Regions from separate parts of the Homo sapiens genome. Here regions 1, 2, 3 and 5 are each linked to region 4. The links come from fine-mapping of genetic effects on gene expression. A gene starts in region 4. Each other region holds a variant in brackets. All regions are shown on one strand. Distances are from middle to middle.

Region 1 (6,419 bases), 150 kb after region 4:
TATGAAAACCAGCACTGGCACACCAGAAAAAAAGAAAGAAAAGTAGGATAGAAGAAAGGAAGGAAGGGAGGGAGGGAGAGAGAAAGATGGGGTAGGGAGAGCAAGGAGAAAGAGAAATGAAATCAAGAAGACAATGAAGATGAGCAGAACAGTGATGATCAGATCCAGGGACATGAAGGCATTCTTTTGACACTTCGGTATCAGGTAACAAAAAGTAAAACACAATGAAACTATCTAGGACTTTGCCTTCAAAAAATAGCCAAACTCTCATGTTGTTGCACACATACAACAGTGACCTAAATTGAGCCAGAGTCAGAGAATACCCCAGCTGTGTTCACAAGGGCTAGACGCTGAGAGGCAGATATTCCAGATTTAATCTGCAGAGTAACTGTAGGTATTTAGTGGATTACTGAAGTGTTTTTAAAACAAACTGTGGTCTTGAGTAACCAGCATACGCCCGTGGCAATCATTTTACACATTTTATTTGCTTCATCAAATTCTTTTAAATGTCTGTAACTAAAGCAAAGGTTAACTTTTGATAAGAGATTCCAAATTTATACAATCCAAATTAGTGAGATTTTACTTGAATGTCAAAAGTTATGTATCTTACTCTTAGTTAATAAGCCTGAGTAAGCTGAAGTGAAAAAAGTTTCAAATCAGTATAACCCCGTCTTTAAGGTTTTTAGGAAAGAGAGATGGCATAGGTAAACTCCTCTACCGTGAAGGTGAGCTGATGATATTCTTGATAAGGATAGATACACCAAGTTTCTTGGACTTGTCTTATGCCTCCTCCATTAGAAACCACTTCATTCTGAAACTGTGATCATAGAAGGGATGCATAATCTTTTCTAGTACATTCTCGTTAAATGGCACTTTTTTTTTTTTTTTTTTTTTTTTTGAGACGGAGTCTCGCTCTGTCGCCCAGGCTGGAGTGCAGTGGCGCAATCTCTGCTCACTGCAAGCTCCGCCTCCTGGGTTCACGCCATTCTCCTGCCTCAGCCTCCCGAGTAGCTGGGACTGCAGGTGCCCACCACCACACCCGGCTAATTTTTTTTTTTTTTTTTTTTTTTTTTTTTTTTTTTTTAGTAGGGACAGGGTTTCACGGTGTTAGCCAGGATGGTCTCGATCTCCTGCCTCGTGATCCACCCGCCTCGGCCTCCCGAAGTACTGGGATTACAGGCGTGAGCCATCGCGCCCGGCCGTTAAATGGTTCTTAAAGCAAAAAAATAGCCCAAAAGTTTTGTGACAGCAGTTTTTGAGAGACTGAAAAGAATATGCTTTTACCCTTTAAAATTTTCAAATCTTCAAAATACCAGTCTATTTTAAAAGTTTCTGCTTAGAATAATTTGCTGTTTGATGAAAATGCCTTCTGTCCTCCTAAGGTCTCTTCTGGACTATAGAGAAGTAACAAAAGTACCAATTGTGTGCATTTTTTCCCGTGTTACTAATTGCCTTAAACACCTTCAATATCCTGCTGCAAAGTCCCGGGTTGCAGATGAGGACATGAATGATAGCTGGCACTGTGGAAAACAGGACCAGAATCAATGAAACAGATGGCAAAAAACACATTTTTGCAAATATAAATTTTTTTGAAGAGAGAGTGAATGATTACTTTCCTGGAGGCAAAAGCCTATCCATCCTCTCTAGAAATGAGATGCCTTTTCTGCAATTCCAAATCTTGTCTGCATTGGAAGCATGAGTGTCATTGGAAGGTAGAGGTCAAGCTGAGATGAAAGTGGGTTTAGCTTTGGATGAGGGGATTCCAGCATGGAAGAGCAGCTCAGGGAGACCATCAAGTTCTCTTTAAGCTACACTTTTAAATTTAATGATTTTGATGTTTTTCTGTTTCTTCTCTGGATCATTTTATTTTTAAAGCAAAGCTTGTAAATATTAAAGTTGATTACCATTCCGTTATTCATTTATTATTCAACCATTTATTAAGCCCTATGCATCAGGCTGTGGGCTAGATAATAAGACAAAAATTAAGGAAAATTTTCACTTTTAAGGAGCTCTCAGTTTAGTGGCAAATGGGGCCAATACCACTTAACATTGTTCATAAGGAAACAGCTTCTGTGGATCTGCAGTTGTTTAGAGTTAGATGTGTTCTTGGATATGTAACTAAAAATAGAAACCTTTGATCTAGAAATTAACCTTTGGTGAGTAGCAAGAATTTATCTTTTTAAAATTAACTTTTTAAAATAAGGTTGATTTTGAGACTCCTTTTAAAAATTCCTTTGGCTAAAATAGCTTTGGAAAAAAAGGGGAAAATGTAAAAAAAGAAGCTCTCTTGTTCCCTAAGTGAGAGGCAAAGATATTGCAACAGGCAAATCTTGCTCTCACCTGCACTCATTTTCATTTGACATGGTGCAATGTTTAGATCTTTTTATTTCCTTAAGAAATTTGCATTTGCCGGAAAGAAAAGCATGCAAATATCTGTAAATCTCTAACCCTGTTTCCTCATGTTGGGTATATTCTCACAAAGCCTTCTAGATTACAAAGACATTAAGAATAATATAATTCAGCTCTATTTTCTTTGTTTTGAGCAGCAAATGTTTCTGGCAATTAGCATGCATCCATTAATTTTCTATGCTTAGAGTTTTTATTTTGGGCTTTAACATGAAGATCTAACTTTTTTGATGGATGTGTTCAATCATAATTATGTTTCTTAGCTGATGTTAAACTAATACGACTATTTGAAAGGAAAAAAAAACCCTAAATGTTTTATACAAGTTCTAAATATTAAATATTTTGAACATATAAACTCTAATTTTAAGATCACACTGACAACCTTATAATGTGTGTGTGTATGTGTGTATAATATACAGATAGAGAAACAGATCTAAATGAAGACTGTGACAAATTCGACACATCAGAAAAAGAATTAATTGAAAATAACTGATAATGAGATTGTCCACATACATTACAACTAGTTAAAAATTGCCTATCCAGCTAACGGGCAGGGTGTACTTTGCACACTAGAGGCAGTGACAACACCCTAAATGCACAAAGAAAAGATAAAGAAGATAATAATACCTTGTGATAAGGAATCCAGAGAGGGATGTGAGAGGGAGCAGCCGGTGGAGTGAGGGCAGCTGGAGGGACGGCGGCTCACATGGCAGTCAGTGGTGGTCTCTGTGAGGGGGTCATTCCTTTGGTTAGCAGACCTATTCCTGGACTCTTCAGAGGCCCTTCCAGACCAGTAACACTCATTCCAGGAAACCTCTCTTTAAATAGTTTGCTGTTTGTATAATAAGGCATTTTAGAAAGGAAACTTAAACGGAAAGAACAGATGATTCTTTGTGTATGCGACTAATTTAGTTTCCATCATTATGACACTTGCTCTTCTAGAAAGTTACAGGAGAGGATAGTGAGAAAAACCTGGATGGAGATTGACAAGGCTGTGTTCTTATTCAGCTCCACTGCTGCCATCTTCATAAGCTCTCTGGGCCTTGTTTTCTCATCTAAAAAGTGGCGCAGCTAGTCTCAATGCTCATATATTCCCATCGAGCTCCAAAACACATATTATTTTAATGTCGGGGGGGGGTTGCATCTCACAGGAAAGTCTATGAATGCATCTTGGTACACAATCATAGTGAGTTCAGTAGCAGACATAGCACAGTTCTTCTCCTGGGAGAATGAGAAAAGAGCATGACTTGAAATTACTGTAAAAGATGACCAGAAAAACAAAAGTGGGAGAAAAACACTTCCTATTGAAAAAAAAATTTGAAGTAATCTGAAAACACATTTGCGTGATTGTTATCTAGAACTGGAATTTCAGTGTTTTCTGTAGGACTTTTATTAAGTATCATATTTCCTGTAATTCAATAGTCATACTATTCAATAGTAATATTGAATAGTACTCAGTAAATGTTTTCTAAGAACATGTTGCTTGCAAATCATCAAGTTTGGTTT[G/T]GCAGGGAATCAATATGTTCCCCACATTAGGGAAACAGCCTTTTTTGGTGATTGAGCAGACATTAAAAAAGCAGAATTATTAATTCATTTATGATGTTTGCTTTATTCCACAAATATTTGAAGCAGCTTACAATAATGTATATACTAATAGACAATCAGAATAAGGGAAAATATAGATGAAATGGAAAACAATATTAGACTAGAGATCTACATACAAGCAATAGATTTCCACAAATGTGCCACAGTTGAGGTGAAATTTTGTCTTTGATCTTAGTAGTGGCCAAAGCTAAAAGAGAAGTTCAATGTCCATGCAAATAAGAGGATGTCAACTCTTTAAGAGAGGCAAAATCTTTGCTAGAATCTAGACCTGAAAGATATTGCATGCAACTTTAGTTTTGGGGGATACTGTTTAATGATGATATGTATTGAGCACTTACTGTGTGCTAGGCATGGTACAAAGTGTTTTACAAGCATTCTCTCATAAATCTTCACAGCAACTCTGTGAGCCAGGGACTATCGTGTTATTGACGACAATGCTGAGGCTTGGAGAATCCAATAAACTTTACATAATACATAGTAACAACTGGAAGCAGTGCTTGAACAATTGCGGAATCTATCCTCTTCATCACTAGGTTATACTTCCCCCGAAGCAAGCTTCCTGCCTCCTCTAGTGAGGCTCTAGGTCCTAAGCTACAAGCCAGCAACAAATACAGCACTAGATTTCATAAGGCTGTTGCTTATAACATCGCTGAAGGTAAGCAGGGGGCATCACACTGAAGGAATTCAGGAAAGAATTTCTGCTATAAGCTGAAAATGAATAAGTGAAATACCTTAGTAATTCTTTTCATTGTTGAGGTTTTAAACCTAGGCTGTCTAGATGAGTGGGTGGCATATACTTCACAAATAACCTTTACAAAATATAATTTTTCTCCATTGTAGTCTTGATGAAATTGATCAGGAAATAGTTCCAGGCAAGAGTCTGAAGTTACTCTTTGTTGACTGAAAGGCAGATCAATGTGAGGCAGGAAGATGTAGTGACTATTGCTCTGCCTTGAAGGCATCTAGACCTCTGTTAGTGCTCTGGCTGTGCCTCTTCCTAATTGTGAGATTCTGGACCAGGTACACAAATCTCCTTGTCTCAGTTTCTTCATCCGTAAAATAGGGATACTAATAGTATTTACATATAAAATTATTGTAAAGATTAAAAACATAGAGTCGGACACATTGTAAACTCTATTGTGAGCTAGAGCGTCTTCTCTCACTCTTCTCTCTTCTTGACTTCCTTCCGCAAAGATTTCCTCCCTTCCCCACTTCCCTCCCCCTTGAATTTTCCCTGTCCCCAACTTTTTTCCTCGCCACTTCATCTCTGTCTCCAGCTTCCCGTTTTCCATCTTCCTTCTCCTCTCCCTCTTCATCCCAATTCATCTTTTACATAATTGAGCAGATAGCTTAACTTAACATCTCATCACAAATCAGAGATACCAAGCCTGAACCCTTCCTGAATGAATAGAGCCATTTGCTTAAGAGACCAGCCCAAAGGATAACAAGAATTGTCTGGGAAGACAAAGGAAGTAAAATGTTTTGGGGGAGTACACAGGAGCAAGTTATTTCTTCTTGTGGGTGTTAGGGAAGGATTCACAGAGGAGTGATATTTCATTGGGTCTTCAGAAATAAGACCAGTGGATAAGGTTGAAGAGAGGGAGAAGGGATACCAAGGCTTAGAAATAATGATTACCAAGACATGTACATGAGGAGAAGCAAGTGCTTAAATGTTCTGGGAAGGTAGAAGGCTGATGCTATGCAGGAGATGAGGATAATAAAGTAGTTTAGGGACAGATTTTAAAACCTACTTCAATTATATTGAAATCTACTCTAATTGTAAGCTTCCAAGTGGATGCCAGAGTTGGCTTTCAATACATTTGCTTGTGATTCTCTGAAATGTATAATGTTTAATGAACTGATTTGGAACAATAAACCAGTTTTTACTGTAGTTGTTTTCAGTTTATTGAACCAAAATACTATTATGCTTACTGCATTAGTCAGGGTTCCCTAGAGGGACAGAACTAATAGGACAGACACATATATATAAAGGGGAGTTTATTAAGTATTAACTTACACAAACACAATGTCCCACAATAGGTTGTCTGCAAGCTTGAGGAGCATGGAGAGCCAGTCCGAGTCTCAAAACTGAAGAACTTGGAGAATGATGTTTGAGGGCAGGAAGCATCCAACACGGGAGAAAGATGTAGGCTGGGAGGCTAGGCCAGTCTTGCTTCTTCACGTTTTTCTGCCTGCTTTATATTCGATGGCAGCTGATCAGATTGTCTGCCTTCCCCAGCCCACTGACTCAAATGTTAATCTCCTTTGCCAGCACCCTCACAGATACACCTGGGAACAATACTTTGCATCCTTCAGTCCAATCAAGTTGACACTCAGTATCAACCATCACACTAAAGCTAATGATATTTCATTCAACTTGAAAACTTGTTTATTTTATAGGACTTTTT
Region 2 (6,419 bases), 210 kb after region 4:
AATGACTTATGTCCTACTATACCAGTGAACATGATAGATTTGAAAACAAAACTTCGCTTTAAAACCTCTTAACTCTTAAGATTTAGAAGACAATTAATTAAAAGTTTTCTTGTGCTGGTGATATTAATAAAAGTTATTCCTTCTAAAAATTCAAAACATGATCACCATTTATTTTAATAAAAAATATAAAATATTTTTTATTAAATATGAAAAGTGTATGCTATCTTCATATCCTGTGCTGCAATGTATAGTTTCAAGAGATAAGTGGAATTTATCATCATGCTATCTTATGAATAAATCCTAGCTCTGCTTTGTAATAAAGTTCATGTTTGCTTTGATTCCAAGAACTATACAAATCAGCTATATGACCATTAAGAGATGAAGGTAAACAGATGGAATTAATAGGCATATATCTTTTAAAATTTTTGCTAAATATAAATGCAGTGAGATAGCATGTGGTCTATGTGACAAAACCCTGGGCTATAGGAGTGCAGTGGGAAGAATCAACACTTCTTTGTAATATCAGAGAAAACCTCTAGTTTTGGAGGTGACAATGAAGCCCTTGTCTTCTTTTGATTTTGTTTTTCTATCTACAGAGTTTGGAAACACTGTAATGCTAGATGACAGTCCCATACTTCCCATAGGTGCTTAGTATATGTTAGTGATCCTGTGAACATTAAGGTAGATGAAGCATTTTGAACTCACCAGGAGAGTCTGTTGTTATAAGTGCTGAGATTTGTAATGCTTATCCCCCCTGAGATAAACCCAAGTAGGAAAGCTATGGAGATGGTTTGTTGGGTTTTAATTCCATCTTAATTTAGTTGAGATACTCAAATTAGTCATTTAGTCTCCCTTTGCTTGAGTCATTTCACTAGTGGGATAGGATTAGTAGTATTTATTCGCGGCAATTTACAGCATACTGAAATATAACAAATCAAGTTCCAAATCTCACTCTACAGGGATTTCTCTCCAAGATGAAAATAATAATAATGCCTAGCATTTAAATCAGACTGTATAATAACTATTTATGAACTATCTGTTTTTCTTACAGCAACTTTATTAGGTATGGGTTCTATTATTATTATTATTATTTCCTTTTTATGATGGAGACACTGAAGTACAAGGAAATTAAATGAGTTATTCCTGACATCACACAATTAGTAGTAGAATGACCAGAATTGAACCTAGGTAGGCTGCAGAACCAAGATGCTTAATTACATTCTGTGCCACCTTCTGTTAGAATCCTTTGGTCTTAGTAATTTGAAATGACTGCTATAAAGTACTACAGAGAGGAAAATACGTCTTTTTAATGTTACTACATTTAATCATTTTAATGACTGCAACATTCTTATTCTTAGTGAAACCCAGGCCTTTATGAACCAGAAATATGCTGAAGTTGTTCGTGAATTTACATAAGATGGGGGCTTTTATTAACGCAAAATATGTCTGGAATGAGCATACATAACTGAGAGCTCTCCTAGGTGATCATAGTCTTTGGTGATACAACAAGATTTCCCTTTTTTGTTGTTGTTTTTGATGTGCAGGTGGGGCAGAAACAATTTTCAGTCTATATTTAGTTATCTGATACAGTCCCAGGAAAGCTTTAGGGAATTTTGTGTTTTGATAGAAGATTAATGTAATGTCTGCCTTTTTTCTGTTCATTCCCTAAACATTTCCTGGTGAAAGTCATCATTTGGGAAGGAGCACATTGAACGAATTGTAGAATGGAGAAGTTTAGGTCTGTTATACAACTAGGTCCATTTTGATTTGCTTTCCCCAGAGACTCCACAAATTATCTTTGAAATTCTTGGGTAACTTTCAAACCTTCATGTTTCCTCGGGTCTTGCAAACAAGATGGATGGATGGATGGATGGATGGATGGATGGATAGATGGATGATAGGGATAAATGAAGGTGTTCCCATATCTGTTGAGTCATGACTCATGTACCTGACACTGGATTGGGACCAGACTAGAGAATGTGGGCCCAGAGGAATGATGTATGAGATGTGAAAGAGTTTTCCTAAATTCATCTCATATTTTCTTGTCTGATAGTTTTCAATGTGGAATGAACATAGCTATAAGCCATTTCTTGCCACAAGCCTTTCCTCCTATTTCATGTTAGTTTTTAAAATTATATATAACGAACTGGCCAGGCGCAGTGGCTCACGCCTGTAATCCCAGCACTTTGGGAGGCCGAGGTGGGCGGATCACGAGGTCAGGAGATCGAGACCATCTTGGCTAACACAGTGAAAACCTGTCTCTACTAAAAATACAAACAATTAGCTGGGCGTGGTGGCGAGCGCCTGTAGTCCCAGCTACTCGGCAGGCTGAGGCAGGAGAATGGCGTGAACCCAGGAAGTGGAGCTTGCAGTGAGCCGAGATTGCGCCACTGCACTCCAGCCTGGGCGACAGAGTGGGACTCCGTCTCAAAAAAAAAAAAAGTATATATAATGAACCATAATTGCTTACTTCCTTGATTCAAAAGCTAAATGTGTGCAGATATATACATATATATTTACACACATTATTCATATGCAGAGAAAAAAAGAGACAGATAGAGGTGGGATAAAATTAAAAGGTCAAAATAAATTTGAACACCTAAATTAATGAGAATTGTTAAACTTTGACTATTTTATAATTTATTATGAAGAAAATAACCAAGATGCAGAAGAAACAGTCATGGCAGAATATCAAAAAAGAAAGGTACTCTTAAGATCATTTTTAAATGCTTGTTTACAAAAGTATATAGCATCTCTTTTCATTTTGGAATGGGAGCTTTCTTCCCCACAATATTTCATTAGAGAACTCAAACTAAGAGTCTGGGAATCAAAATTTATTTGGCACAATTAGTCAATTGTGAGTGATCATTTCCAAAATAAGGAAGGTGACTAAAGGCTTGAGTTAGGAAATTCTGCAAGTTTCAGAGATGGTATTAAGATGTTATTGTTTCAAGTTTACAAGGCGGGGAGGGAATACAGAAAATATTTTCCTGTAAAAATACTTGATCAAGCACAACTAAATAGGGTGAAAAGTTTTAAACAATGGAAACAACTGTACTGGGG[T/A]AATTACACATTTGGCTTTGACCCAAAGGAGTCATTAAAAACAAAAAGAAAAAAGAAAAAAACCAATTATCGTATAGATTTTTCCCCCACCCCTAAACAAAATAGCATATTTTCACGGTTTGAGGACATTCTATTCCTTTATGTACAGATGCGTTGTGTTATTTGAAATACATTTGATTTCTGTGGCTCACTGTTTTCTGGTGGTGATTTCCCTCGCTTAGAAATAGCGTGTTCTAAGTCAGCAATCAGTGGACAGCATTACCCTGGCCCACTGGAAACCTTAACTCCATGTAACTGCAGTCTGAGACTCAGTTTCAACATTCGTCAATGAAGGACTCGTTCTCATATTTCCCAGCAGTCTTTGAACTATTTTAAGATAGGGATTCCTTTTTTTTTTTTTTTTTCCTTTTTCAGCTTAATGGTTCCTGTGAATCTTGAAATCAATTCTGAAACAATTACTTCTAAGTTTAATCCACCTGGAAAATTTTCACTAAGCTCATACCTGGAGTTTGAAAAATGCTATGCTTAATGTAAACAAATGAATGTTCATGGCAAATGTGTACAGTAGTCATTACCCCTTTATCTACAGTTTTGCTTTTCAAGGTTTCAGTTACCCATGGTACTGTATGATATTTTGAGAGACAGAGAGAGAGGCCACATTCATATAACTTTTATCATAATATATCATTATAATTTTCTATTTTATTATTGTTACTGTTATCTCTTACTGTGCCTAATTGATAAGTTAAACTTTATCATAGGTATATATGTATAGAAAAAAATAGCATATATAGGGTTCAGTACAATCCACTGTTTCAGGCGTCCACTGGGGGTGTTCTAACATATTTCCTGAGGACAAGGGGACTACTGTACTTTAAATGTGTAAATAGCTGCAAAGAATCATTAATACACCAGACAGAGGAAGTCTCTGTAGCCTTATTACTGGTTTTAAATTATTGAAAAATAACACAGCATATGAATATTCAAGAGTTTTTGAAAGCTATATAACAATTCCACAAGTATCCAGATTACCACTAGGAAGCCACTGATAATGGGAATAGTCACTTCTGAGAGAAAGTGTTAAGAAAGTTATTGTTTCAAGTTTTCTAAGGGGTAGAAACAAAGATAAAACTTTTACGTAAAATTATCTGATCAAATATAACTAAATAAGGTAAAAATATACACAAGTTTTAGACCACATGGCAGGAGCTTTAAAACAAAGAGCAGCGTCTCCATCTAGGTGTTTTTTTATATATCAGACATTAATTTTTTTTCAGAAATTAAGGACTGAAAACTATATTTGCTGCATTAAAATATTCTTCCCATTATATTCTGACCTCTTCCTCATTGTATCTATTATTTTTGCAAGTTTTCGTGAGAGATTATTTTTACATTTTACAATTTTAATTGAAGTTTTATAAACCAAAATTAAGGAGAAGGTTAACTAAAAACCAAACATCACTTTGATAAGTTAACTAAAAACCAAACATCATTATAGAGAGAATAAAAGGGGAAGTTAACTTATATTTATAGGCTCAGAGAAGTCCTCTGTGAGAAAGTGACTTTTAAGCTGAGACCAAGGATATGTAGAGTTACTTTTGGTTTCCCTGCTGTTTGAAAGTTTGTGAGGATTAGAGAAAATGTATGTAAAGTACCCATTTGATTTTAAAAGTTCAGTTCAATGAGTCAAAGCAGTTCAAAGTGTTGTACCAGCTGTAAAATGTCCATGATCTCTTTCTTTACCTGAATAGTGTATAATTCATATTTACAAAATGTTGATAGTACAAGGTGCCTTAGAGATCAACTAGCTCAACCCTCTCATTTTGCAAATAAAAAATATTCTGCCACAGGCAAATTAAATGACTTTTCCAAAATTATACAGCCAGCTCCCGACAGAGCCAAGCTGGGCATGGGGTTGCTGTCATGTACCTCTGCAATCTTTTTACAACATCAGTCAACAGGATCATCCCTATCTGAATTTAGTATTTAAATTCTGCATTCAATTTTCCTGCTTATTAAAATGTTAATTGTGCACAGCATAAATCAATTTAAGCTTGACCTAATTTCCTTGTGGCCACGAAACATTTTTTTGAGCCATATTTTTTGGAAGGACATATTTTACGCCCTACGTAGAACCATAGATTCTACCTAGAAGCTTTTCCGCATACCTGAAAGTCTGCCTTCATTTTTATTCACTTGGCACTGCACATATACTTGTAATCACACAGATAGGTCCACATTTAACCACTTGTGCACACCTAAGATTGGTTATACTTCACCCGCTCCAACTTTCCAGATCCTAAAAATAAATGCGTGTTCAAACTTCATAAATACAAATTATTGTATTAGCAAAAATGTATACACCTATCCAAATCATTTAGCAAAACAAATGACAATTGATTACTAAACAATACTCTATAACTATTAATTATACCTTTGTCATCAAAGTAGTAATGCCCTAGGAGTTGCCAGCCATCTCTCTTAGTGGCCCCTCCAGAAGTTGGGTGGCCACACCCAAGCAACAGCACTTCAAAGTGCTCAGTCCTCTACACCTTCAAGTGGATGGTGCTAAGGGGCTTGGCCTTCACCTTACGGGATAGTGACTCTTCAACTGCATGGTATAGCAGATTCACCAGGGAATCTTGCTCAAACTACATGTACCCAGGCCTACGCCTGAGAGATTCTGAATCATTAGGTCATGGGTAGAGCCCAAGAGTGTAATTTTTTTTCTTTTTTTTCTTGAGACGGAGTCTCACTCTGTCGCCCAGGCTGGAGTGCAGTGGCACCATCTCTGCTCACTGCAACCTCCACCTCCCAGGTTCAAGCGATTCTTCTGCCTCAGCCTCCTGAGTAGCTGGGATTATAGGCACCCGCCACCACGCCCGGCCAAATTTTTTTTTGTATTTTCAGTAGAGACGGGGTTTCACTATGTTGGCCAGCCTGGTCTTGAACTCCTGACCTCGTGATTCACCCGCCTCGGCCTCCCAAAGTGCTGGGATTACAGGCATGAGCAAGAGTATAAATTTTAAGAAAAGCCCAGGTAATTCTAACACACACTCCAAGTTAAGAAAACCTGGGGCACCAAGAATGCTTCAAGGAGAGGGTCTGATGATGCCAACAACCAGGGTATCAACCAGGAAACACTGAAGGGAGGCACCTGAGCTCCTGTGTGTTCCATATTCCTGCCCTTCCCTCTCAACTTTACCTTTTTGTAGCATATCCAGTGTGCTCCCACCTCCTAGCACTGTCATCTTCTTCCATATCTTGGGGAAACCTTTTGAGTATGGGCATAACCACTTGGAAAGATATAGGTGAACAACAGATCTTTGTAGGTGAACTCACAGAACACCCTATGC
Region 3 (6,419 bases), 190 kb before region 4:
CCAAATCTACAACTCATTGGCATTCCTGAGAGAGGATGAGCAACTTGGAAAATGTATATTAGTCCACAAAAATTTTCCTAAATTTGCTAAAGAGGTTGACATAGAAATCCAAGAAATACAGAAAACCCCAGCTATGTACTGTACAAGATGATCATCCCCAGGGCACATAGCATGAGATTTACCAAGGTCAATGCAAAAGAAGAAGAAGTCTTAAAGGCAGCTAGAGAGGAGGGTCAAATTACATACAGAGGAATCCCATCAGGCTAGCAGCAGACCTCTGCAGAAATGTTACGAGCTAGAAGCAGAAGAGTTTGGCACCTATTTTCAGCATCCTTTTTTCCTTTTTTCTTTTCTTTATTTTCTTGTTTTGAAGCATCCTTAATGAAAAGAAATTCTGACCAAGAATTTCATATCCCACGAAACTAAACTAAATAAGTGAAGGGCAAGCAAATACTGAGGGAATTCATTGGTACTACTACAAAAACAGACACATTGACCAATGGAATAGAATAGAAAACTCAGAAATAAAGCTGTACACCTACAACCATCTGATCTTTGACAAGGCTGACAAAAATAAGCAATGGAGAAAGGACTCCCCTATTCAATAAATTGCATTGGGTCAACTGGCTAGTCATTTGCAGAAGAATGAAATTAGACCCTTACCTTTCAGCATATATACAAACTAACTCAAGATGGATTAAAGATTTAAATGCAAGACCTCAAACTATTAAAATTCTAAAAGAAAACCTAGGAAATACCTTTTTTGACGTCGGCCTTGGCAAAGAATTTTTTGGCTAAGCCTCCAAAAGCAGTTGCAAGAAAAACAAAAATTGACAAGTGGGACCTAATTAAAGAGCTTCTGCACAGCAAAAGAAACTATGTACAGAGTAAACAGACAACCTACAGTATGGGAAATAAATATTCACAAACTATGCATCTGACAAAGATCTAATATCCAGAATCAATAAGGAACGTAAATCAGCAAGCAAGAAGCATAACCCCATTAACAAACAGTTAAAGGACATTAACAAACACTTCTCAAAAGAAGACATATAAGTGGCCAACAAACATATGAAAAAATGCTCATCCCTATTAATCATCAGAGAAATGCAAATAAAAACCACACTGAAACACCATTTCACACCAGTCAGAATGGCTATTATTAAAAAGTCAAAAAATAACAGGCTGGATGTGGTGGCTTATGCCTGTAATCCCAGCACTTTGGGAGGCCAAAGCGGGTGGATCACTTGAGCCTAGGAGTTCAAGACCAGCCTGGACAACTTGGCAAAATCCCATCTCTATAGAAAAAATTAGCCAGGCGTAGTGGCATGCACCTGTAGTCCCAGCTACTTAGGAGGCAGAAGTGGGAGAATCACCTGAGCTCGGGAGGTTGGGATGCAGTGAGCTGAGATCTTGCCTTCTCACTCTCTCCCGGGCCACAGAGCTTGAGACCCTGTCTCAAACAAACAAACAATAACAACAAAAATAACAGGTGCTGGTGAAGCTGCAGAGAAAAGGGAATGCTTAAATGCTTATATACTGTTGGTGGAGATGTAAATTAGTTCAGCCACTGTGGAAAGCAGTTTGTAGATATCTCAACTTAAAGCTACCATTTGACCCAGCAATCCTATTACTGAGTATACACTCAAAGGAAAATAGATCATCATACCATGAAGACACATGCATTCATGTGTTTATCACCGCACTATTCACAATGCAGAGACATGGAATCAACCTCGGTGCCATATAGTGGATTAGATAAAGAAAATGTGGTACATATACACCATGGAAATACTATACAGCCATAAAAAAAAGAACGAAATCATGTCCCCCTTGCAGCAACATGGATGGAACTGAAGGCCATAATTCTAAGTGAATTAACACAGGGACAGAAAATCAAATACGCATGTTCTCACTTGTAAGTGGGAGCTAAACATTGAGCACACGTGAACATAAACATGGGAACAACAGACACTGTGGACCACTGAGGGTGAAGGAGTGGGACAGGGATTGATAAACTACCTGTTGGGTATTATGCTCCCTAACTGGGTGCAATATACCCATGGAGCAAACCTGCACGTGTATCCTCTGTATCTGAAGTTAAACTTTAGAAAAAAAAAAAAGGCATCAGGAGAGTGGAGTTAGAGAAGGATTTGTGAAGACATTTCTTTGGAGAGGGCTGTTGCCTCACCCATTTTCCCCCTGGCATGCTTCTACAGACAGATACACACAAAGTTGAGGAAGGGGGTCCTACCAGAGAGAGGGAGGCTTCAATCTGTGTCCTCCGGGGTCCTGGAAGCATGTGTCTAGAAGCATATAAACAGGTATCTAACTGTTTCAGAGACGGTGGCACTCAGTCTTAGGTGTTAGGACAGAGAAGAGGAGAATTGCTAGCGTTTTAGAAAGTGATCCCATGTTTCTGGGAGAGAATGGTCAACAGTAGATTAATCCCAAGGGTAGGCAGGAGTATCTCCTTGTGCTATAGGGAGGAAGGAATGAAGGAGAGTTGCTGCAGACAGAATTAGCAACACTCTCAGAGTTTGTTAGATCCAGAAATGAGCAATGCCAGTGGTGAGAGTGGGTTGGTGTAGGAGTTATCCTAGATCCTGTTCACTAAGGCCACCTAGAGGGATGATGGGATGTCAGCAGAAAGGAATCTGAAGTTTCCACATTGCTAGAGGATGTGGAGAGAGTGAGAAGAATAGAATACATTTGCTAGATTAGTGGAACTGCAGATGAGCAGGGCTGGCTTCATGGGCATGCAGCCTCTGCAGTTACACAGGGCATCATACTTGATTTAATGTTCTGTAGTTGCTATCTTGAAACTCTTCGTAATTTTTCAACAAAGGGCCCTACACTTTATTTTGCACTGGGCCCCACAGCTTATGTTGCTGGGCCTGCAGATGAGAGACTACCCATGAAGTTGGGAGTCTCTGCTAAAGCCAGATTGAGAAAAAGAGCTTTAAATATCTGTCAACCCTGGAGAGCTTGGCACCACCTTACAATGGCACCAGTTAAATGCAAATTTCTAGTATTTCAGTAGGGTCCTGAAGCTACAATTAGCCACAGGAGTTGGCAGTACTAGGGAAAAGGAACCAGCCACC[T/C]GCTACTGCCTGTAACCATACTCTAGCCTGGGAGCTGAGGGGAATTGGGGCGGGGCAGGGAAGTATGTGCAAATATTACTTTTCAGCAAAGACTGAAGTGTTGAAAAAAAAAAGAGGACATTCTAATTGAGACTGTATTTGTGGATGAATGTAAGAAAAATGGAATAAGACTCATGGGGCCTAATGTAATTTACATCCAGGGACACAGAAAAAGTATCTCTCAAATAAATGTTGAACAGGTAGTGGGAAAAGAAAACAGAAGTGCATTCTGATCACTTTGTTTAATATGCCAGGTATATATAGTAACTTTTTCCTTATAAAGTCATCTTTGGGCTAACTTTACAGAGTGTTTTATATGATTTCATAGAATTTAGAGAGTATATTATTAAAAGCATCCAGTGAGAGTTTTATGTTACTGGTTTTTAGTAAGATGTTAAGAATAATTGTATTAGAATGTGCTTTGCCTTACTTTCTTTGTCAGATGTACCCAAAGTAGCCACTATTTATAGAAGATGCATCATAACCACTATTGTCTATTTTCACATTCATTATAGCTTCCTCTTACTTGATTATACAAATTGCTATTGCCTATACTGCACTCAGAGATAATTGCTCTAATTTTTGTTATATAATTTAATGTTTGAAATAGACTATATATATTGACTCACTATATTGACTTTATTAAAATACATATTTTAGATACTTGTGGTTATGAAATCTTCGTCAAAATTTGAGATTTTTTAAATGAAACTTTTTAATGCATTTTTTTCTCTTTACATAATTCAGTAAAGTGTTCATCACTTTAGTTTGTTACTGTTTCTTCAGAAATACTTACCTTTGTTATTTCTGAGTCAGTACCTAATATGAGAGAGAATAAAGCTTGTAACCCAAGTAATATATAGATACATTAATATCTTAGCCATAAAGTAAAATTTTTAAAAAGTTTTTAGTACTGATTACTTTGATTTAATACCTTTATCTCTGATCTGTTTTGTACTTTTTTATATTGGGAGTTTATTAAAATACTTTATTTCAGCCTTTCCTCTCTCCTTAGATAATTTTTGAAATGTAGAACTCTATATTTATCACTACCAGTTAAAGAATCAATTATGTTAAATTGAGTTTTGTATATTTGGTAGACACAAGACTGATAGATTTTATTCACCTATGTAGTATAATAGTGCATTTTCTTTAAACAAATATTTTAGTGTTTTTTAAATATCTCCTCTTTGAAAACCTCCTTTATCCCAGTCTACCCCATTTTATAGCTCCTTTAGAGCAGGGATCAGATCTTAAATCTCTTTGTAGTAATTATACTCTTTGTATTATTTATATGGTGACGGGCTCAAATAGGTACTCAATAAGAATTGAATTGTTGGCCGGGCGCGGTGGCTCACGCCTGTAATCCCAGCACTTTGGGAGGCCGAGGTGGGCGGATCACGAGGTCAGGAGATCGAGACCATCCTGGCTAACATGGTGAAACCCCATCTCTACTAAAAATACAAAAAAATTAGCCGGGTGTGGTGGCGGGCGCCTGTAGTCCCAGCTACTCCGGAGGCTGAGGCAGGAGAATGGCGGGAACCTGGGAGGCAGAGCTTGCAAGTGAGCCGAGATCGCGCCACTGCACTCCAGGCTGGGTGACAGAGCGAGACTCCGTCTCAAAAAAAAAAAAAGAATTGAATTGAATACTTTTCAAATAAATATGCCAAATCTTTGAGTTAATATTTGTCTTATATTTTTATAGGCTAACATTTCCAATGATCACTGGCCATCTTTGGTTCAAGAGGCTACAACTGAGGCCTTGAAGCTTTGCTTTTGTCCACTGGCTGTTCTTTTACAAGCTTTGTTACAATTCAAACGCAAAATGGGGGCAAGGTATGAAGAATCTTCATCTTTTTCTTATAAATGCTTCTTCACTTTAAATCTTTCTAGGAAATAATCAAGGAAAGATTATAAACTTTAAAGTTTGTAACAGACCAATTTAACAAACTTTGGGGGGTATTTATATATCTGTATCTACTTTGGAAGAACTGGTTCCAGAAATCCAGTAAGGGAGAAACAAAGCCTTATATTTGTTTAAAAAGGCAATTTGATACATATTTATAGGGCATGAGGGGTTTGGCATGATAGCATTTCCAGTGAAGAAGGTCTTGGAGTTTTTGTTCTTCACTGTGTTAGGAGGCACCAACAGTGTGATGTGGGTTCTAGAAACAAACAAAACCAAAAGACCCCAACACAAGGCTACATTATCAGTTCTTGCTATTGTTATAAGCTATGAAAAAAGTAATAAATATTGAAAAGGCAGAGATATGTTGTTTATAAATGATGTGGTTTCCTATCTAGAAAATCCAAAAGCTGCTCTGATTAAAATACAAAAATTCTATAGCAATGTTTATGTTGAAAGAAGTGTACTTAAATTTGAAGAAAATTACTTAAAGATCATATGGGTAAAAAATACAGGCAAGAATACTTTAATATTTTGAAAATATCTAGTTCTAATATATACTACATATAATACAAAGCATCTGTAAGTAAAGCAGTGATTGAGGAGCAAACATCACTGGAACAGAATAGGTATGGTAGAAATGGAGGTTAGTACATATAAATATGTAGCAAAAGACACATCACAAAATAGGGATGGTGGAAGATTAAGACCATATGGCTGATTAGCAACTCCAGCACTATTTATTAACATTTATTTATTTGGGGCCATTTTTATGTGTGACTAATTTCACTAAGAAATGTTTTAGGCTATAATTTAAACTTCCTAATGAACTACTTCTGCTCATGCTCAGTGTTGGTAACTTAGAGAGTACTATCTCCCCTTCACCCCCTACCCCAATAATCTTTGTTAACACCTCCCATAATTTTTATCGCCTTCAAAACCTAGCCCAAATAAAAATGCAGTCTAAGAAAAATAACAACGTGCTTACTACGTGATCCCTCTGCAAAAGCATCTTCAAGACAAGTTATTTAGTTCCTGCTTCAAACTAATTGCTACTTAGAAGATCTTTCTGTTTAGCAGTTCTGAATATACTAATGGTTTATGTTGTTTTTAGCAGTACAGAAGTTTTGGAGTCATAGATGTTAGTAAATTAGGAAAGAAAAAATTAGAACACAGCTGTAAATCAGCCTGTTATTACATGGGTTTACATTATCATACACGTCCTTGAAAACATATGCTAAAAGCCTGATATGATATACATAGCCTGTAATGTAGACATTGAATATTTCTTGTTCCACTCTTTATCACCCTTGCATTATTTAGTGACTTATTTAGTTTCTGCCTACTTTTCAAAAAGATTGGAGGTAGAG
Region 4 (6,419 bases):
ATATTTTTCCTCTTGTTCTCTCTAGAGAATAAGATTTCTGGGTAGTCCAGTTTCTTTTTGTGCTTTCAGAGCAGCTTTATATTCAGGTAGTTTTTTGTGGTCTTGGTGCTTTCAGCTTGATTGGTGTAGAAAAGACAGTTTGCCTTGGGCTTTTGAAAATGATCTCCATATTGATTTAATAAGGGATTGATGCAGGTTTGGAGCGAAAGCCTCTGAAGTTGGTGTGTAGCTCGCTTTGTAAGACTAACACTACCTTGAATGGCCAAGTCCTTAATGAAGGTTTCTACTTATTTTGATGGAGATTTTCAGTTTTATAAAGCTCCCATATATAAAGCTCATAAATACTCCAGAGAGAGTTAACACTTAAGCCACCACCAGCTTACACAGTTAGACTTAGCTATGATATTTATAATTTAGCTGAAGAGTTTTAACTGAAACTTTAAAAGGTTTACCTGAAACTTTGAAAAGTAAGGACTAACACAGAAATAAAATACAGAGAAAGGAAACTGGAGTGAAGAGGAAGGAAAAGCCAGTGAAAAATGCCAACCCTTCTGCTTTCACCCGGTGGGGAGGTACCTCCATAAAGGCAAATGTGGTTGGCTTTTCTTATTCTGTGTGGAGAGTGCTTCACAGCCTCTGTGTTTACCTTTGCAGTTGTGAGCTTGCCCTAATGTGGACTCTGCCTCACCAGTCCTGACTTTTCCCTCATTTGCTTCTCAGAGGCTTCCTCAGGAATTAGGTGGGGTTGGCCAGAACAGAGCTACAAAGAAAGGGTAGGCCATCGTAGCTCTAAGACTGTTTCATTCTCTAATTATTAAGGTTCCAAAGGAAAACTTTCAGCAGCACACAATTTTTTCAAAAAAACATGCTTTATTATTGTTTGCTTTTATTTATACTTTAAATTTTAAAATAATTATGGACTCACAGGAAGTTGCAAACATACTACATAGAGCTCCTGTGTGACCTTCACCCAATTTCCCCCAATGATATTATCATACATAACTATAGTTCAATATTAAGACCCAGGAAATTGCCATTGGTACAACTTATCTTATTCAGATGTCACGTTTTTATGTGCATTCATATATGTATGTAGTTCTATGCAGTCCTATCCTGTGTATAACACACATTCATGTAACCACCACCACAATCTAAATTTGTCTCATCATAACAAATAAACTTCTTTATTCTGATCCTTTACATTTGCCCCACCGCTAACCCCTGGCAACCACTATCCATCTCTATAATCTTGTCATTTCAATAATATTATTTAAATGCAGCCCAGTGTTTCTCCATTCACGTTGCTCTTTTTCCAAAGCATAGTATTCATATACTTGGGAAATACTGGGTCTACCAAATAACAATAATATCAACTATATACAGGCACTGAGCTAAGTCCTTTTTCCACTTAATCTTCAAAATAGCCCTGTGAGGCTATTTATTAATACCTGGCATTAGTATTAGTAAATCACATCACATTACCCTCACGATTAAAAAAGACCTCTAATGTCTCCCAATTTCATTTAGAGGAAACATGGACTCTCACTCTGGCTATAGGACCCACTCCCTTAGCTGACCTTTTGTTTCACTACATCTCTTACCAACCCCACCCACCTTGCTCTACTCTATTTGGAGTGGTATCGTTCTGTCCTTGAATATGCCCAGTCAAGCTGCTTCCTGCCTCAGGACCTCTGTATCTGCTGTTCCTTCTACCTGAAATTCTACAGTCAGATCCGTCAATAGCTGGTTCTCTGTCCTCATTAAGTCTTAACTCAAAATTTTATCTTCTCAGAGAGACTCTCCCTGTACACATAATGTAAAAAACCAAAAACCTCTCCATATGGGGCTGCCAGATTTAGCAAACAAAAACATGACACCCAGTTAAATTTAAATTTCAGATAAATAATAGTATTTTAGTATAAGTATGTCCCATGCAATATTTGGGACATACATATACTAATATTATTCATTGTTTCTCTGAAAGTCAGTTTAATTGGGTGTCCTGCATTTTGTCTGGAAGCTCTTCCTCTGTAGCCACTCTGTTATGTGGTACCCTGCTTAACTGTTTCCATGGGACTTTTGCATATTAGAAATTCTGTTTATTGTCTCGCATCACCTCCCAACCCTCACCCTCACAATAAGCTCCATGTGGGTGGGACCCTGATGCCCTGTTCACAGCTGCATCCCCAGAGCCTATCACAGTGCCTGGTATATAGTAGGTGCTTAATAAATATTTGTTATAAAGGTAACAAAAACAAAACAAAACAAAAAACTTAGGTTGGTAACACCTCCAAAGCATACTGCTAGCTAGACAAGACTGATCAGTGTGCTACCGCAGCTTAGGGAACTCTCCCGTTTTCCCCATTTAGGAGGACGAAAGAGGCATTGTGTTGCTGGCCTTTCAGAAGTCTCTCCTAGCAGAATCAGAAGACCCTGGCTGAGCAGCTTTGGGAGAAGCAAAGTCTGAATGAGCTAAAAAGCCTTTTCCGTTTGCCTTGCAACAAGCAAATGAAGTAACCAAAGAAAAAATGCGCTTGAATGAAAAGAACAAGATTCTGTGCGTGCCGAATCGGATCAAAGGCAGTGCGCATCACCCATCTTCGTCCACCGTAAACTCCCTGCAACTTAAGGGCTGGCTTTATCGTCAGACTCCGGAAATGCTAGAACCTGATCATAAGAGACCAGTGCAGAGGCAAATAAAGAAAAGGGAGGGGTGGATGGGGATGAAGTCAAGACAGAAGAAATTAAACTCTCGTCTTGGACCCAGGGAGCGCAACGGGGCGGGGGCAGACGTCTTCAGCTTTAGAACTCCGTCGGGTTCATCGCTCAGTGTGGACGATCGGCGCCCCCACGAGACCCATCGAGGGCACATAGTTTCCACTCCAGCTCGCTTCATCCGACCCAGACGATCGCCAGCGCGGCCAGCGGCCAGCGCACAGCGAGCTGCCTGGGCAACTGTGGCCGGATCCTAGGGAGCAAGCTGGCTTCGGGCCCTACCTAGCTCCACCCGGCTCCTACCGGCCCTCCCACCTAGGAGCTGGAGGATGGTCCCGGGGCGCCCCAGGGGGACTGCTGGTCCCCGGAGTCTCCAGCCAGACGCGCCTTGTTGTGTGAGCCGCGTGCGCGCCCAATTTGGAGGCAGCCGCCCCCGCCGCTGACAGGTGCTGCCCAGAGGGCGCCGGGTGCGGTCCCTGGCGCAGCTGGACGCGCACGCCCCGGTGCGTGCAGCTTCCCGAGCTCGGTCAGAGAGAAGAGGGAGCCAGGGCGCGGCCTGGGGGACGCCAGTGGACTGGAGCCGCGGAGCTTCGAGGGAAAAACTTTGCAGGCGCCGCGGCCGGGATTCGGTTACGGCTCCAGCCCACCCCAGCAGGTGCGGGAGGAAGAGGCAGCGCCGGAGTCCCGAGGCCAGAGAGCCTCGGCGGCGGCGGCCGCTTCTTTCCCCCGAGCTGGCCTGAAGTCGCTGGGCACTCCCGGTTTCTGCTGCTGCGCCCGCCGCCGCCGCCGCCGCCACCGCCAGCGCCGCGGGGACCCGGGAGGAGGTGCAGCCGAAGAGGGAGGAGAAGCAGGAGGAGGAGGAGGAGGAGGAGGGGAGAGGAGGAGCAGGGGGTGGAGGATGGAGCCCCGGGCTGCCGCGGCGGGCGAGCCAGAGCCGCCGGCGGCGTCCTCCTCCTTCCAGGCCCGGCTCTGGAAGAACCTGCAGCTGGGGGTGGGCAGGAGCAAGGGCGGCGGGGGCGGGCGCGCTGGGGGTCCAGAGCGCCGCACTGCGGACACCCCGTCGCCCTCCCCGCCACCCCCGGTGGGCACAGGGAATGCACCGGCCAGGGGGAGTGGTGCAGGCAGCAGGTGGAGCGGCTTCAAGAAGCGGAAGCAAGTGCTGGACCGAGTCTTCTCCTCCTCGCAGCCCAACCTGTGCTGCTCGTCGCCGGAGCCCCTGGAGCCCGGCGGCGCCGGCAGAGCCGAGCAGGGGTCCACGCTACGCCGCCGGATCCGCGAGCATTTGCTCCCCGCCGTAAAGGGGCCCGCGGCGGCCTCGGGAGCAGCGGGAGGGACGCCTCCTGGCGGACGCTCCCCCGACTCAGCTCCTTCCTCTTCCTCCGCCTCATCCTCCCTGTCCTCCTCGCCCCAGCCTCCCCCGAGGGGGGACCGCGCCCGAGATGAGGGTGCACGGCGTCAGGGCCCCGGGGCGCACTTGTGCCACCAGAAGAGCTCCTCTCTGCCGGGCACCGCCTGCCTGGAGCAGCTGCTGGAGCCGCCGCCTCCTCCCGCAGAGCCGGCGCGGAGTCCCGCGGAGTCTCGGGCCCCGGAGACGGGCGAGGAGCACGGCAGCAGCCAGGTGAGTGCCGGTGGCGCGGCCGGAGACAAGGTGCGCGGGACCACGCCTCCCTCTTCAGGCGTTCACCACCCGGGGAGCGGGGGGCGGGGGCCGGGAGGCGGGAGGAGAAATGCTATTAATTCTAAGTAGATGAAACAGTCGAAAGAAAACATCTCGCTCTGGTTTAGCAAAGATGAAAGAGTTCTGACTTGCACCCGGACTTTACTTTTGGTAGAAATGATACCTGTCACCAGAAGCTTTCTGAGTAGTCAATGAAAAGTTAGACCTAAAGTGGGTACTTTTTAGAGTTCTCCTGAAAGGAGATGTCCAGCCAAATCTCATCTTGGCAAAAGAAAAAACTAACCCAATAACTTAAAAACAATTACGATCACGTGTGGTGGTGTGGAGAGGTACCATTGGAAGCAAATGGCTGGCGGGAAGAAATAGAAACGTGGAGAGGTAAATTATGGCACATGTGAGGTCCTGTGCCAGGGAAAGCATCATCTCAGGCCTGCATCCGGCACCCCTTTCTTAAACCTTCCTGCTGCAATTGGATCACCGCCCTTCAAGTGGACAGCGGGAGCGTCTCCTCCCAGTTAGTCAAATGCATATGTTCCTATGAGCCTTGTGAAGTTTTAATAGTCACCTGAAGCACTTGCTTTTTAAAGTATGCTGCTTTATACATCATGTTGATTGCTCAGACAAGAGTCAAGGTTTGTAAAAGTGCTTTTACTAGAAATTTTATGTGTGGGACCCACAATGTGTCCCACTGAATAGCCGTTTTTACTCCCTCAATTTCGAAGAGGCACTGCTCTTTTTGTAAATGTTTATCAAATCATTTTAATTCTAGAAAATATTTTGGAAGTTTCACTCTGCCAGAGACCTAAAGAACATTTTTCTCCCAATATATCTTAGTTTACTTACACTTTCTCATTGTTTTGACTCTGATTAATTATGTTAGATGAATGACACTTGCATTAAAACTTTAGTTATTAGTAGATTAAAAGCTCAGCTACAAAGAAACAGGCTGTGTTTGAAGGGTAAGATACGGGAATAGATAGGCTTTCAGTTGGAAGTTTTTATAGTTCATGGACTGATTTCTTAGTGTAGCTCCAGAAAGTAAAGCAGAATATGAATATGTTTTGTTCCTTAATAAACAAAATTGCTTGCTGTAAGCAAACACCTGATGATCCAGAAAAATATTTTATTCTCAGAAGAGTAAGTAGAGATAATAGTGACAAAAAGACCAAATACATTTACCTTTCCTGTCATCTTGAAAGTGAACTGGATAGAGCCCCTGTTTTTGGTTTTAAAAGTAAAGTGATAAATGGTTTTAGAAGAATGTTTTAAATTCAGTATAGATGAATACTATATATTAAAGGAAGTATTTATTTTTGAGCGTGTACATAATCCTAATGTAGAAGAATTTCAGAGTTGGGGAACTTTACATTTTTTTCTTTCACTATCAAGGATAATAGAATAACAAATAATAATTGAATTATTTTGAAAGGTATATATCATATTACCGTGAATGTTAACTTATTAAATCACATTACAGTTCACTGAACCAAGATATTTTTAAAGCAAAAATAGATAACTCTGAATTTTTTATGTTCCTTTTTGCCAAAAAGTTTTCAGAAACTGTCAATCTTTATTAAAAAAAACACTACTATGTAAGTATGAATTTTGTATACAAAAGATATAAACTTATTCTGGAGAAGATACTAAATTAACACTATTATGTATGCCTTCACCATATGCTGGGCATTTTATAGCCCTACATAGTTTAACCCTCACAGCAGACCTATGTGATTGTCACTTTACAGATTCGTAAACCAATGCTCACATAGGTTAAATAAGCTTTCCAGGGTCACGTAGTTAGTAGATGACAGAGAGAAGTTTTGTACTCAAGTCAGTCTCCAGAATCTTTTTCCATTATGACAGCTACCTTTGACAACTTTTAGAACTTGTTCCATTTTTTAGATGTCTTTGGTCTTACTGATGAAAGTAGAGCCTTGCAAGTTTACGTATATTCTGGAGATTTTTCCCCATCCCTATATACAATCAATTCTATGATGGATTAGCTATCATAATTTGTAATTTGTTC
Region 5 (6,419 bases), 580 kb after region 4:
AGTTAGTTCAGCTGGAGTTTGTGACAGGGAGTATGACCTGAGGGGAGGAAACCAGGAATATTAGATGATGAAAGCAAAATATGCCAGTGGACATTTAAGAAAAAAAAGTCTTTCCAGAATTTGCAAGAGTTACAAGTAAGTTTTGAAGAAGTATATTTTGGAGATCAATGAGGAGAGGAAAGCTGACTGCTTTTTGAAGAGTGGAGCATATCTCAAAAATCCTTTGAGGTTAATGCCCATTAACCATCAGCTGTTTTCAAAATAAAAGAAGTTTGTTTTTTTTTTTTTAAATCCTGAAGCTGGGTTACAGTGATACCTTTTTCATTTGCTATGACATGACAGTGGGCTGGATGGAGATTAAGACTGTATTAAGCAAACACACGATAAATTGTAAAAAACCATTATCGAGCCCTTTAAAAAATTGATGTAGATGGTTTTACTTTTAATGTAATGTGTTATAGACAGTGAATACCATTACTAAAGTTCACATCAGGGCCCCATGTACTTTCCAACAGGATTTCCCTTATTCTTGCTCTGTCATTCTATTGCTTTCTGCATCTCAGCTGCAGATCCCATACAGCTTCTAGAGTGAGCACTTTCTTCCCCCAAGCACCGTCTCTCATTCCTTTGCTGTTCCTTTCTTTGCCAGAAAGTGGCCACCTGACCAGTCTTCCTCTGAACTCTGTTTAAACAGGTGCAATACCAAGAACTGAAACCAGATCCTTCTCATAGCCCATATAAAAGAAAGAAAAACAATCTTGGCTAGCCAGCTCCCAGCACTGAGGAGACCAGCATCTGTTTGGGAAGATAAAAGAAAAAGCCCTCAGCCTCAGCAGCATTTCCTTTCTTTCTGCTTTTTATTTATTTTGCCTTTTTATCATGATCGAGAGAATCTGTAAATAGTGTACAAAGGCATATGTCTTTGAATATATACTTCTATTGTACAGACTCAACTTGATAAAGGTTTTGCTACTGCTGTGTCAAAACCTTGTTAGCTGTGGATAATAATATAACACACTGAAAGAACAAATATAAGAATGATAACACTGGAAGATATATTCTTATCTAATTACTAGTGGATTAAATACTCACCTGTGCTCTGATTAAATCTACATCAATTGTAAATGTCGATTTGATTTTAAAGTTTTTTTTTAATGCGACTATTTTTTATCTGAAAAGTAATCCATTACACTTTTCTATGTTTTATACATTTCAAAAGGGAGGGAAATTCCAAAGCCTGAATAATGGAATGGATACATTTCAATTTAACATATATTCTGGCTTTAGATCCCGACATTCACTCCTGTGCAAATTACTTAGGTATGACTTAGGCTAATTTTAAGCTAATAAGTGAAGGTACATTCACTCCCTCAAGAGAATCAATACTCAGAAGGTTACAAAGTTTTCTTTATAGAATTTCAATCAATCATTCCATCTAAAACCTTAAAATCTCTACAGGACTACATAACATAAATACTGCCAGTTTATAAACGATTGCCTATCTGAATTTTTATACCTACCACTACTTTAATTTATACAGTTAGTTAGCAAATTAGCAACCCAGTAAGTACAGTTATCAAAAATACTAGGAAACTATATCCATATCGCTTTTGGTGTCAGATTGTATCTGTGCATCTAAAAATATTTTAATAAATACTCAAGTGCTCTCAGAGAAAAAAAAAACCTGCTTTCTCATTAGATTACTGAAATGCTTTAATTCATACTATGATTTTGTTATTAGTGTGAATTTTAATGTAGAGAATTCAGTGTGCTAAGTGATATGCCAGTGTTTCACTACATTCATTTATTAAAAAAAATCATTCTTGATTATGCATGAAAACCTGTTTTGTAAAATAAAATAAACTGCTTGGGGGTGGTGGTTGCCTTTATCAATGTTTCACTATTATCATAGAATCTATACTTAAAAATTGCATTCCCAAGACTCTTAAAGTAGTTTTTATATCTCACTCCCTGGTATACTAAGGGAGCATAACTCTGGAGAAAAAATAATTTGGTTGGTTGAGAATGTCTTACTTCCCTGACTTGGTAGGGGACTACACTCAGTTGAAATTGCAGCAGACAATGCTTTGCACTACTTTATTAATAATAAACTTGGATGGGGTAAAAGTGGGGGTTATACTGGAAAAACTATAGAAAAGCTAAAAGAAATGTATATTTCACTCTAAAGGAAGATTCTTTAACAATAAATGTAATCTCATTGAAGCTGATTTTTAAAGTATTTTTATTTTAGAGATAAGTTGTTAAATACTATTTCTTATAATAGAACTATTTTGATCTGTTTATATACTATGCTTGAATGTCAATTAAATTCCCTTTCTACAGAAAGGCTTTGACCTCAACATGCTTTATTTAATGTATCATGTTTAAAATGACATGCTTCTGTCTGCATACCATCACTGTTTGTTGCTAAAAACATAATGTTCCATGAACATGATGTTACTACAGAAAGTTTATTGATGAGATAACTGTTTGAAATAACTTTCAATTATACCTTATGTGAGACTTTTATGTTCTGTGCTGACAATGTGTACTCAAATGTCTATAAGCCTGATATTCTACAACCTCAGATGTATCTAGTGGATAGTAACCATTAACAGATGACTAATTTGTTTCACTGTATCAAATTTCAGATGTTTAGTTCAATGGTAATGCTGACTACACATTCACTGTATTAAATACAAAAGAAAATAATCTTTCCCACGTATAATCAGCACTCCTTTTTTTTTTTTTTTTGGTGGTTCAGAGATTGATGAGGGATTGTGTGCATATTCTTAAAAACTATATGTCACTTGGAGAAAAACAGATTTGGTTTAAACAAATAAGACCTTTTTCCTGAAACTCTGACTCTTATATGAAAATACCTCTGGAGGGGTGAGCAACCAATGACATTAACAGAGGAATAAGAACTAGCTTGAGGCACAAAAGTGATATTCAGGGAAATCTTCATTGCTTTTAGAAACTACTACATTCACAGGCTGAAAACAGAATATGTATAGTTAAAATTTTAACTATTTATTTCTTTCCCCTTCTCACATAG[C/G]TGCAATTCTGTCTTGAGAGCTGCCTGACTTGCCTTCATTTTGAGATCTGTGATGTAAATATTTCTTAAGAGACTGAATGTCACTCAAACATCTACTTGGACTGCTAACTATTATAGATATTGTGAACTACTAAATATATTCCTTTAGTATCTTTTAGTGAGTAAATTCACTGAGTCATTATTTATATTCATAAACTATTACTGACATTCGTTGTGATAATTCATAAGAAATGCGTATTTGTGCTTTTAAATTTTTCCCCACTTATCAAAAAGAACATAATAGTACTTCTCATTCATTCTGGTACTGTTCCAGACTCAAACTGATTGATTGATTGAATCTCCCAACTCAGATTATCCTAGTGCATATAGAATGTTCAAAAACTGGAATTCCTACAGAACCTATCAATCAATCAATCAGTTTTTGAACATTCTATATGCACTAGGATAATCTGAGTTGGGAGATTCTTAAAAGGACTCTGTGATATATTTATCGAATACCAACTGTATGACCCTGTTATAGACAACGGTCAAACCAATGATTGTATACTAAAATCAAATCTGGAGTTGAAGTACAGTGAGAGCCAAATTTAATTGATACATTTCTAAAATTATCTTTTATAAAATTTTTATTCTGCATTTAAAAGTGAAGAAAAACTCAGAAGTAAATGCTTATCTAGGGACCACAGGAGCTTTTTTTCCACTTTGATCTCATATCTAAGGTCTCCTATGCTCAAAGTAGTCTACATTTGTATTAATGTTATTCAAAGGCAGTAATTTCAGCGAATAAACTTGTTAAATGGGCCTAAATGTTTATAATGTTGACTAAGCATTAAGAACAAACAAAAAGGTATAAGGCAGTTATACCTTTTTGCTCCAGAAATACAAGTAAAGACAGCTACCATTATACTTCTTGAAAAACGTCTCAGGTATTGCTAAATTAATACTTGCTTAAATTCTTGGGCTTTAAATGAATAGCGTGATTTCACACTCTAGTGTGAGTGAGTGTACAGATGATGTCTATTCGTTGGTTTGATTAGGGTATCTAGAATCAGCCTTTTCTAATTGCTCAGTAAAGTATGAATTAAAACCACATAGAAAATAATGTGGTAAATTCTTTCTTACAATAGTGTCATTCCTTTCAATTATAATTCTTTTTCCTGGGATGATTGGTGTAACTCACTGAAAGAAAACAAAACATTTTTTTTTCTTTTTTTTTTGGTGAAAATGTTACCCTCTGGTACCTCAGTTTCTTTTATATAGTGGCAATTTGAATAGAGGCAGTCACATAAGATTTACTTCAGCTGAATGGCTAAAATTTGAGAAATACTATTGAAAAATCTCATTAAAAAATAGTATGCAAATAAAAACTATCAAATGTCCAAAGCAATCATACAATGTAGAAACTAAGAGCACCATGAAAGGTTTCCTGGAACTTAATGATTCTATCTGTGCTTTTCAAAGGAGGGATCTGGGTTAAGAATCAAAAAATAAAAACAATCAAATATTGTAACTGACCTCAAATGAGTTTCAATTTATTGGGCTCTTCTTTGACATTCTAAGCTTAAAAAAAAAAAGAAAAAAACAAAAAAACCACCAAAAACCCATACAAAAGAAGTGTTCTATTACATGCACAAGCAGTATTTTTGTAAAGACAGGTTTTTAAATTTATATGATTATCCGTACCTCCAAATGTCACTGAAAAATTATTACTCCATTTTTTACAAAGTAAAATACACTGCTGTTCTGCTTTAGTCAATTAAGTGTTTATTATATTAGGCAGAAAGATTTGTTTCAAGGAAAGCGGAAATGGTTTACGTAAGTAGCCGTGCCTACGTTTTTTCAGTATGTAGCAAAATTAAAATTGCAGTGCAATTATCCCCTACTACAGATTCTTCAATGTTCCTTCCAAAGAGAAAAGGAGTGGCCAACCTGAACCAATGAGTGAACCTGAAAACTATCTTTTCTCTGGAGGAATACATTTAAGGAGATCCTGAGGCCTGGCTGAGTGGAACTCACTCCCACTTGCTAGTGGGAACTTGCTCCCACTAGTGAAGAAAGATGATAATATAGGTTCAGTTTCACTTTCTAGTCAAAGACAAGCTCAAAAGGGCTTGAGTCCATTTGAGGGATTTTATTTTGCCAGAGTTCAAATGGTGACAGGTTTGGAGGAAATGCTAAATTCATAGAAAAAGCACACCTGGCCCTCACTACTCATACTTGCCTTTTGCATTACTGGAGACACCTGAGAATAGTCAAGCATTGTTAGAGACAGCTGGACCACAGAAGAGAGATGAGGGGAAGGAAATGACATATTTGTCCCAAGCTCAAAGAACCCTTTTTAATAAAGCTATCAGAGAACTGAAACCTTATAACTACATGCCCCACAAAACATTCTTCTTTTCTATAGTAGTAATTATGAAAAGTCAAAATCTCTGTGTACCTTGTAACACTGCAACCATGGAAAACAATTTATCGGTGTCAAGAACTAATAAGCTCTTGGAAAAATTTTACAAAGAAGTGTCTATTTGCTATTATACAAGGCGGAGTATGTAATTTTGTCATCTTTGTTTTATAATAGAGGAAGTAGTTAACAATTTCTGAGCAAAAAAACACAATGGTATACCTACCTCTTACGTTTGGCCTTAAACTCTTACAAACTTCAGTTTCCATTAACAGAGAACCTAGCAAACATAAGAGGGTCTTTGAAGCACACGAGAAGCCATCCAGAAAACACTATACATATCTGACAAAGGAGTTTTTAAACAGATTAATGTGATGTTCCATTATTTGTGTGAAATTGCTTAACATCACTTTTAAAAACATTCATTTTCAGAAGTAAGAGAAAAACTTTTTTTAAAAATCAAAACATACAGCGCTTGGTAATTTAAGCAAAAGCAAAATACTCTGACTTATGGATTGGGGGTACCAAGTATTCACCATCCAATCTTGCACACTATGATGCTACGTACTTGATACATAGTACATTTAATGCATATGTACTTGATTTCCCTCCCATAACTGTGACAACAGCCCTGACCGGTAGGTAAGAAATCTTCCCCCTAAAAACAGATTGATACTATCAGGTTGTACTATAGTTACCATGTAGGTATCCAGGATATTTATACAAAACACAACTGTAAAAAGATTGTTCTGAGTTGTACTACTTAAAAGAGTACCTTTCAAGAAGCTATTTTGCCGGCCTTCACAGAAGAGGTGCAAAATAATATGCTCTGGAGAGCTGTGGTAAGACACTCTCAGAATTCTCTCAACAGAGGGTTGTTTGTATCTGCATTAATGTTGCAAATAATAAGTTATAAAGTGGATATTTTTTCAGAGTGATGATAGAAGAAAAAAATTCTTT

Alleles and levels. Positions count from the first base shown, and alleles are read on the strand shown. Sizes are in standard deviations (SD) of each study's normalised expression. Not every link is listed here.
In carriers of allele T in region 1, the expression in tibial artery of the gene that starts at base 3,095 in region 4 tends to be lower than with G alone (small effect, 0.14 SD a copy in GTEx).
In carriers of allele T in region 2, the expression in skeletal muscle of the gene that starts at base 3,095 in region 4 tends to be lower than with A alone (moderate effect, 0.47 SD a copy in GTEx).

What was found.
Region 1: its variant is fine-mapped to the expression of MCTP1 in tibial artery (GTEx, PIP above 0.99).
Region 2: its variant is fine-mapped to the expression of MCTP1 in skeletal muscle (GTEx, PIP above 0.99). The same link has a PIP of 0.9 or more in esophagus muscle, left ventricle and visceral fat.
Region 3: its variant is fine-mapped to the expression of MCTP1 in cerebellum (GTEx, PIP 0.92).
Region 5: its variant is fine-mapped to the expression of MCTP1 in whole blood (TOPMed, PIP above 0.99).

What each region holds. Positions count from the first base shown.
Region 1 is chr5:95,135,359-95,141,777 of GRCh38, reverse strand. The region is part of intron 1 of MCTP1 (multiple C2 and transmembrane domain containing 1); the gene reads left to right. LOC105379085 (a long non-coding RNA gene) reads right to left here and starts at 3,204. Exons shown (of 8, transcript XR_948575.3): 1 at 3,034-3,204. The variant G/T (reference allele first, on the strand shown) is at 3,913.
Region 2 is chr5:95,073,501-95,079,919 of GRCh38, reverse strand. The region is part of intron 1 of MCTP1 (multiple C2 and transmembrane domain containing 1); the gene reads left to right. Among named protein-coding and RNA genes, the nearest start is that of MCTP1-AS1, 98 kb to the right of the region's middle. The variant T/A (reference allele first, on the strand shown) is at 3,064.
Region 3 is chr5:95,468,340-95,474,758 of GRCh38, reverse strand. It overlaps SKIC3 (SKI3 subunit of superkiller complex), which reads left to right. Exons shown (of 43, transcript NM_014639.4): 41 at 4,849-4,979. Among named protein-coding and RNA genes, the nearest start is that of FAM81B, 80 kb to the right of the region's middle. The variant T/C (reference allele first, on the strand shown) is at 3,105.
Region 4 is chr5:95,281,770-95,288,188 of GRCh38, reverse strand. It overlaps MCTP1 (multiple C2 and transmembrane domain containing 1), which reads left to right and starts at 3,095. Exons shown (of 23, transcript NM_024717.7): 1 at 3,095-4,333. The coding sequence starts at 3,614. RefSeq lists silencers at 3,747-3,806, 3,887-4,006.
Region 5 is chr5:94,701,843-94,708,261 of GRCh38, reverse strand. MCTP1 (multiple C2 and transmembrane domain containing 1) reads left to right here. Exons shown (of 23, transcript NM_024717.7): 23 at 695-4,572. The coding sequence ends at 766. Among named protein-coding and RNA genes, the nearest start is that of SLF1, 86 kb to the right of the region's middle. RefSeq lists an enhancer at 5,045-5,114. The variant C/G (reference allele first, on the strand shown) is at 3,059.